2 separate regions of the Homo sapiens genome follow, and region 2 is linked to region 1. The links come from fine-mapping of genetic effects on gene expression. A gene starts in region 1. The other region holds a variant in brackets. All regions are shown on one strand. Distances are from middle to middle. Region 1 holds the start of PHYKPL (5-phosphohydroxy-L-lysine phospho-lyase). Region 2 overlaps COL23A1 (collagen type XXIII alpha 1 chain).

Region 1 (4,381 bases):
TGCCCAACTGGAAGAGGGCCGCCTCCGTCACACGGCTGGCTCCACTCAGCCAGTCCCACTGGGCCTCCCCCAGCCCCAAGCTATAAACCCAGCCAGAAGAGATGTAGTTCTAGAGGGAGAGGTAGAAAGAGGGCAGTCTGAAGGCAGAGCAGGGAGAGAGAAGCTGGTTCTGGAAAGGCAGATCCAGGAGTTCCTGAGATTCTGGCAGAAGGAAAGCCGCTTCAGCAGAAGAACCCTGTCTAGAAAGCCCATGTCTTTAAGGAGGACTTTTTTTTTTTTTTTTAACAGGGCCTTACTCTGTCACCCAGGCTGGAGTGTATGGTGTGATCATGGCATTCACTGCATCCTCACACTCCTGGGCTCAAGTGGTCCTCCCACCTCAGCCTCCTGAGCAGGTGGGGCTATAGACACCAGTCACCATGCCTGGCTAATTTTTAAGTTTTTTTTTGGTAGAGACAAGGTCTCATTATGTTGCCCAGGCTGGAAGGCCTTTTGAGGCTTGTATGACAAAGGTGGGGTGGGGGGTGACTGTCAACTGGTTTCACTTCACCAGCCAAGGGGGCTGGTGGTAATCTTGATTGTCAAAGGCCAAGGATAATAACAGTGAATATGTACTGAGAGCTCACCATGTGCCAGGCACATTCAGAGCAAGCTACATAAATTAACACACTTAATTCTCCAAACACCTTAAAGTGGGTACCTAGTATCATTATGTCTTTCACAGATAAGCAAACTGAGGCACTGAGAATTAAGTAACTTGCCCGAGATCACAAGTTAGTAAGTAGGGGACAGGGATTTGAGCCCAAGCAGTCTAAGACTAGAGTCTCTGCTTTTTTTTTTTTTTTAACCTCAACTTTATTCATCTTCCATGTGCCTGCTGAGTCTCAGACTCCCTTTCTTTCCATCAGCTCTGGCAGCCTCATCAAGATGACTGAATTCCTACTTCAGCTCCCTTGCCTAGCACCTGAGATGGCCAATGGGGCTGAAGCACTGCCATGACCCCAGCACTTGGCCAGCACTGTGCTACGTTGCTGGTCACAGCTGGGCCATCTGCCACTTTGTGAGCTCATCATCAGTCCCAAGTGGAACTAGACTCACAGACCTAGATTGCTGACCCCTGCCTGGTTTAGCACAGCTCCAGATTGCAGAATTCCACAGCTATATTGCGAAGGCTGAGCCTCCTCTGCATACTGACAGTGCCTCAACTCCACCCAGGTTCTCCACACCTCTCGGCAATCTCAGGTCACCTTGGGACCAGGTTCACAGCACTGCCTTCCTCTCCTGCCCTGCCAGCCTGAGGTGTGATACTGACCGTGCGCCACATTGCTGATGCAATCGATGTATTCTGCCCCCTGTTCATCGTACATGTACTGCCCTTGGGCCCGGACAATCTTAACAGGATCCTCGGGAAAAAAGAGTCTGCAGGAAGAGCTGTGGGGACAGGCAAGGAGTGGACAGCCATGTCTGAAGACCGAAAGGGTGAAGTCTACTCATCGCAGACCCCCGCCCACCCCTTCCCAGTTTCTGGTGGCGGGGGGGAAATGAGAGCTGGAAGGGCAAGGTGCTGCTTCCCTGCCTTGTCTCTCCACTCCACAGGTGGTTGCAAAGCAGGAAGCAGATGGGGTAACAAGTCGCTGAAACTTCGGATTGTTTCTGAAAGCATTTTCAGCCTCTGTGGCCTCCTTGCTCATTTCTGCATGTGTCCGCGTCAGTCTCCCGGATCCTGAGAAAAGGTGGCTGCCCCGTCCCATGGGGACTCCATAAGGCCGCGTGTCTTCGATGGGATGGGCCAGGGCACCAACATTAGGTGCCTGGCTCTCAGCCCTAAACAGCTCCTTGCCAGCCACGTGGCCCTGCTGCCCCTCGCTGGGTGCCAGCCCTAAGCTCCAGTGGGAGGCGACCTCACCCACCGTCCCACCGAGGGCCCCCTCACAGGTCAAGTGTGCTGCCTGTGAACCGACTCCCCCGACTCTCCCTTGTCTGCCCTTTCAGCCCCCTCCCAGGTCACTCTCGAGCCAGGCCCAGGTGCTGCTGACGGGCCACCCTGGGTGAGGTCCTCTCAGGCGCCAGGGTGAAGGTCTTCTCCGGAGTAAAGGCTGCCAAGCGAGGCTGACACAGCCGAACAGCGGTGAGGGCGGGGCCGTCTCCTGAACTGGGCGGCCTGGAGACGGCGCTGTCGGGGAGGCGGCCCCGGAGACCACCCGCCGGGACTGCCCAACGGCGCCGCCCGCCTCGGGCCCTAGAAGCTCCAGCGGGGCCGGGGCAGCGGCCGGACGGGATGGGTAGCAGCGGCTTCCTAGCCGGAGGCGCGTGCGTAGTGCGTGCGTGCGTGCGTCGTGCGTGCGCGTGCCTCTCCGCGCAGCCCCGCGCCCCCCGCCGCCCGCCCCCCGCCCGGGTACCTGATGAGCCGTTGCCTCAGGGCCAGCGTGTCGGCCTTCGGGCGCTGGTCTGCGGCCATGGTGGGTGGCCGTCAGTCGGTGCCGTGACGCCACGCGGAGACGTCGCCGCGCGGGCTGGGCCTCCAAGGCCCCGCTCCGGGCCCCGCCCCTGCCTGGGTCGGGATTTGGGGCTCAGGTTCGCACTCGGCCCCGCCCCGAAGCGCCCGCGTTGCGGTGGTTCATTTCTTCGCTTGCCCACTGGGCCTGGCAGCCTTCCGGCCCGTGGTCGTGCCTTGGCAGTCCCGCGCAGGAACTCGAGCGCTGCCCCGTCTCTGGTTCCGGGACGCGCCCCGGGCCTCGCCCCGCAGGCCCCGCCCCGCAGGCCCCTGCGGCCTCCCTTCCGGGAAAGGGTCCCGGACGACCCCGCCCCTGCTCCCGGCGCCCAGGCGGGGCTCGGAGCTCCTGCAGGCCTTCTCTGGGCCAGACTCAGTCTTTGAGTCGCCTTGTGCATAAAATGGGATGAACTGTGAGGCCTAAGTGCGAGTATGTGACTGGTACCTTACCCGGGCCTGGTACACAGTAGGGGCCTCAGGGTGGGAGAAGCAGGTCCTAGGTTTTCCCAGCCCCATGAAGGGGCAGCAGGAAGAGCAGAAGGAGAGCCCAGGGTCCCTTCTGGGGCTGACCAAGGAGATCACCATGGGCTTGACCTTCAGGGCACCATAGTTCCTGCTAGAATCTAGGCAGGGTGAACCGGACGAGCTGTATCGTCGCTGAGAGAATCATGCAGCGTTTGGGCAAGAAGAGAGGTTGGGAATCCTCCTTGTGGTACATGTCGGTGACCCTGAAGCCCAGAAAGGGAAAGGGTTTTGTTGTCAGACACGCAGCAAGGCTGCAGAGGCTGGACTCCTACTGAGGTCTTCTTGACTCCCAGCCCAGGGAGTGAGAAGAAAAAGCCTCCCAAGGGGCTGGGATATGAGAGAAAAGCCCCCTCCTGGGGTGAGGCACTGGGGCTTTCTGCCTTGAAGAACCCTGGAACACGGGCCTGGGACTGCAGCAGGTGCAGGGGAGGCTCCTGATTGTCCCTTCTTTCTGTCCACATCATGATTCCCAGGCCTCTGCTTCACTCCCTCATTGCTGATTTCTTCTTCTCTTCCCAATACAGTTGTAAGATGCATAAGGCATTTATTGAACTCTTGACCTCAGATGATCTGCCTGCCTCGGCCTCCCAGAGTGCTGGGATTACAGGCCGGGTGAGCCACCGCACCCGGCCGCTTAAGGCATTTATTAAAGAACATTTGGAGTTTCTTTTTTCTTTATTGTGTAAAATATACATAACAAAATTTTACCATTTTAACCATTTTTAAGGATACAATTCAGTGGCAAAAGTACATTCACATCGTCGTGCAGCCATCACCACCATCCATGCAACAGGACTTTTTCATCTTCCCTAAAAGAATGGAATTTCTTATTTTTAACTGTAAAGCTGAATTGAATATTTTACATGATTTTTGGAAAAAATTCTTCCCAAATTAACTGCGAGGTTAACTGCTTGTGGCCTGTATTTTTTTTTTTTTTTAAAGAAAGGGTCTTATTCTGTTGTTCAGGCTGGAGTGCAGCATTGCAGTCTCTACCTCCCTGGGATCATGTGATCCTCCCATCTCAGCCTCTCAAGTACCTGCTACTACAGGTGCACGCCACCATACCCAGCCTGTACTTCGTTTCTGAGGATCAAGACCTCACAGACCGTGTGTGTGTGTGTGTATTTGTGTGTGTGTGAGTCCTATTTGGGCCCCGCCTTTCAGCCCTGTCTTGCAGCCCAAACTCCAGCCACAGCTGTGGCCCCGTGCAGCTCAGAGGAATCAGGTTGGCTCAGGGGCTTTTCCTGCTTTAAGGCAGAGGGTGAGAAGGCTGTAGCTGGGCCCGGCTAACATCTCACCTGCTCCTGGGTCAAGAGGTGATATAGTTGGAGGTCAGACCAGGTTGAGCCATTTCCTGGGCCAGGA
Region 2 (4,381 bases), 35 kb after region 1:
ACTCAGGTCCTCCCCTTGGTCTGGCAGGGCCAGGGTCCTGATCAAAATATTACAGCTCCAGCGGAAAGGAAAGAAAACTGACAGTTTGGTTAGGTCACCAGGTATGGGTGGTGATGGTGGCGGGTGATTCCTGTTTTAATTTGCACTGAAGCAGGAAGAATTTGAAGACACCCCCTTAGCTCCCTGCTGCTCCTTTTATAAAGGGCCTCAGGCTGGGAACTACTGGCCTAGACTCTACTTATTAAGGCAGAAAATGGGCCTGACACTGGAGCAGATCCTGGGAGAGGTTCTTAGGCTCTTTCCTGGCCAGCCTGCCTGCTCCTCCCTCAGGGATTGGATGGCTGAGGTCTAACCCTGCAAACGTGGGGTGAGTTGGGGGTAACACAGCAAGCCATCAGGTCCAGACCCCCACTCAGCCAGTCTACCTTGAGGATCCGGCGATTGTACAGGTGATGGTCTCTACTTATAAAGCCCGGATTGAGCCGTGGGAAAACCATCTAGTCAGCAGATAGGTTGTGTGGTCAGAAAGGCAGGAAGGTGATCTGAAGAACTACAAGGCTTTTTGAAACCTGGAGGCAAAGCCACTTAACCAAGCCCAGAGAAAGGCAGTTAGGTGATCAGGTGTGCAGACTCCTTCTCCAAGGATGGCTGCTTACCAGCTGAGCGCCCACCAGCATCCACGCCACCTGCGGCCATGTGACGGTGCCATCACCCAGGGCTCCCGGCCTGGCTGCCTGCAACCTCCCAAGAGAGCCTAACCCTTACCCAGGGGCCATGAGAGATAATGGCAATTGGAGTCTTAAGCCACTACTTTTTAAATTTTTTTTTTTGGAGACAGTCTCGCTCTGTCACCCAGGCTGCAGTGCTGTGGTGCCATCTCGTCTCACTGCAACCTCTGCCTCCTGGGTTCAAGCAATTCTCTTGCCTCAGCCTCTCGAGTAGCTGGGACCACAGGCGCACACCTCCACACCCGGCTAATTTTTGTATTTTTAGTAGAGATGGGGTTTCACCATGTTGGTCAGGCTGGTCTCAAACTCCTGACCTCAAGTGATCCACCTGCCTCGACCTCCCAAAGTGCTAGGATTACAGGCATGAGCCACCTCGCCCGGCCATTAAGCCACTAAACTTTGTGTGTGCATGTGTGTGTGTGCGCATATGTGTGTGTGTGTTGGGGGGTGGTGTTCCCGATGACTGGGACACTGGGACCATAGGGAGGGTATCCACGAGGAGGGTTGGGGGATTGGGAGGAGATCCACTCTTCATGACCTCTGGGCCTCAGGACTTCTAGTCTGTTGAAGAGAGGGCATCCCCTTTTGGAATATCAGCTCCACACACCCACCAGGAAAGCAAGCAGAAGGATTTTTCTCAGCAGCTAAAACTCAGCATGAGCGCCCTTTCTTTGACTGCAGAACAATCTCACCAGCTTTATGTGGCTGGCACAGAGCAGCTGTGTTCGTGCTCACAGCTCAGGGGCTTGGCCTGGCCAGCCCCCTTCCCTGCTCCTGCTCACAGCTCAGGGCCGCGGAGGTGCGGAGCAGGCGCCCGGCCAGCTCTGACCACAAGCTGCAGCCCCGCTCTCCGCACTGCGGCTCCCACTACCTTTTCTTTCCCATAACAACCTCTTGGGGTGGGGGCTGTTCCCCCATTCACAGTTGAAGAAACTGAGTCTCAGAGAGCAAAGTGACTTGTTCAGGGTCACTCAGCTGGCAGGTGGCAGAGCTGAGCTTTGAGCTCAGTTCTGCTGACCCCAGAGCCTTCCCTCTTTTTGGGGTGCCAGCTGTCCTCAGGACGCTGTCTCCAGTCTGGGGTCACGTGCCAGCCCCACTGTCCAGCATCCACAGTGGTAAGCATGGAGACCTGGCCGTCTTCCAGAGACACTCCACCTGCGCAAGAGGGGCAGCCCCACAACCCAGGTCCCTGGGGGCTTCCACCGGTGCTATGGGTGGGGAAGAGCCCTCTTGGCCTCTTTCTGTGATGAGCTGCGGGGAGCTGGGACCCAGAAGCAGCGCCAGTTATGCCTCATTATTACACAAAACAAACCATGTGGGCAGTGAGGGAGGTCATGCCTGGTTCTTACCCGGGGGCCAAAGTCTCCTGGTGCACCCTGGGAACAAAAGACAGGGAGAGGCATCACCACTGCTTTCATCGTTTCTTCACATTTCCCGTCGGGCATCTGTGCCCAGTGCTTCATAGACATGGTATGACTTAATTCCAACAAAAATAGCAGGCAGGCCCTATTTTTATTTCCATTTCCAACGAGGAAGCAGACACAGTGAGGCCACTTAACCTGCTCAAGGTCACACAGCTAGCAGATCCAGGACTTGAAGGCAGGTAGGTGTCCCCTTATCTAGGGGGCAGCCCCAGCCATTCGAGGCCCCAGACA[T/C]TGTGGAGCAGAGACAGCCCCTCCCACTGTGTCCTCTGGAAGGGACGGTAATGAGTAAATGTTGCTTTACACGGCCAAGTTTTGGGGCAGTGCATTAAGCAGCAATAGACACCAAGACACCAGTTCTCTCTGGTTTCAAAGCCCCTGATGGAATCACTTCTATGACACGGTGGCATCAGCCAAGGCCGGCAGGAAGGTAATCAGGACACCTGCCAACTGCACTAGTCTCTTCATTGACAAGAACATTGAGACCATGACCTCATGCAATCTCTCCTGTGGCTCCGTGAGATTGGTCTTAATTTACAGATGGGGAAACTGAGGCCCACACAGCCCGGCAACTTGGCCAAGGTCACACAGTTGGTGGTGGAGCTGGAATGCAAAGCCGAGCTTCTGAACACCAGCTCCCATGCCTCCCCACGGCTCCCGCAGCCCTGGTGGTTGGGCGGGAACCCTGCCTGCCTGGCCTGAGCTGCGGAATCACAGCAGGGCCCATCTGCAGATCTCACTTCCCATTTCCAAATTCTGGGTCGGGGGTGGACATGGTCCAGCTGTGGGAGCACCCGGCTGGCCCTGGCACACCTAGGCCTACTCTGGTCCCTCCCCTGATTTTACCGTGGGTAACACAGGTCTCTTCTGTCCCTTTCTGAGACACTTGGTCCCTGTTTTCTAGGGGGCTTTAGTGCCTGATACCAAGGAAGCCTTCCTCCCAAGGGGCCGCAGAGATAGCTGTCCGCCTTGTCTTCCTGATGGGTGTCCTCCCCACAGAGAATACCATTAACAGTCATGGTTCAATCCCCAAGCCCTCCTGGCACCCCCCTTCACCATGAAGTCCTCTGGACACTCGTCATTCTGGGAACACCGGGCCTCCGAGTTTGGTTATGCTTTGGTCCCAGGAGAACTCAAGACTCAACTCTCTGGGCAGGCCGTATTGTCAAATGTAAGCCTTGTAATCATTTTAGAAGGTAGGCACTGTGATTCCCACTCTACAGATGGGGAAACTGAGGCTCTAGGAGGGGCTGTGATGTGCTCAAGGGCACACTGGAACTGGCGTTCGGAGGCAGGTTTCTGGGATTCTTCGCCTGCCTACCACATCTGCACAGCCTCTGGCATCACTTACCTTTTCCCCTTTCGGGCCTGGAAGTCCCTGGAAAAGGAAAGTGGAGAAAGAACAGACCTGAGTGAGGGGCCTAGGCTGGCTCCCCTTCTGGCTTCCCTATACCTCTGAGGGCAGAAGGGCCCGTGATGCTGGGCGGCTGAGTGGAAAATTACACATGAGCTCTCAGCCCTCAATGAGAGCTGCCCTGGCTGGCCCAAGGAAGCTCCACATCTCAGTCCTCAGCATGAGGGATACGGGGGAATTGCGGGTGACCAGCAAGGGCCCACTGGCATCCTCGCAGCAGAGAAAGGGGCACATGCACTGGCCACTCCTCCCAGAGAGCACACACGGTCAGTTCCCTACTGCTCAGCACCCGCCCTGTCATTGTCAGTGGGAGACCACTGCCCCCAAGCCATCTTTCTGGAATCTGAGAAGCAGGCAGTAGACAGAGATTCTCTCTCCATAGGCATTCTCTTCTTCTTTTTCCTTTCTTATTTCTTAAAAAAAAAAAAGCATTCTCTTCTTTAATGGTAGCAGCTCCTTGGAGTATGGGTTCCATCTGTCCATCCCTGTATGAGTCATCCATCCATCCATCCATCCATCCATCCATCCATCCATCCATGTATCCATCCATCCATCCACCCACCCACCCATCCACCCACCCATCTATCCATCCATCCACCCACCCATCCATCCAACCATCCATCCACCCGTCCATCCACCCACCCACCCATCCACCCATCCACCCATCCATCCACCCATCCACCCACCCATCCACCCACCCATCCACCCATCCACCCATCCACCCACCCATCCACCCACCCATCTATCCACCCATCCATCATCCATCCATCCATCCATCCACCCACCCACTCATCCATCAATCCATCCATCCATCCATC

What was found. PIP is the estimated chance that this variant, and not a neighbour inherited with it, causes the effect.
Region 2: its variant is the best candidate, but not a certain one, in a credible set for the expression of PHYKPL in tibial nerve (GTEx, PIP 0.88).

The regions. Positions count from the first base shown.
Region 1 is chr5:178,230,093-178,234,473 of GRCh38, forward strand. It overlaps PHYKPL (5-phosphohydroxy-L-lysine phospho-lyase), which reads right to left and starts at 2,710. Exons shown (of 13, transcript NM_153373.4): 1 at 2,400-2,710; 2 at 1,313-1,431; 3 at 1-7. The coding sequence starts at 2,458. It overlaps LOC112267937 (a long non-coding RNA gene), which reads left to right and starts at 3,946. Exons shown (of 3, transcript XR_002956238.2): 1 at 3,946-4,381. RefSeq lists silencers at 2,135-2,454, 2,535-2,944 and an enhancer at 2,334-2,872.
Region 2 is chr5:178,265,230-178,269,610 of GRCh38, forward strand. It overlaps COL23A1 (collagen type XXIII alpha 1 chain), which reads right to left. Exons shown (of 29, transcript NM_173465.4): 7 at 3,501-3,527; 8 at 2,078-2,104. Among named protein-coding and RNA genes, the nearest start is that of PHYKPL, 35 kb to the left of the region's middle. The variant T/C (reference allele first, on the strand shown) is at 2,384.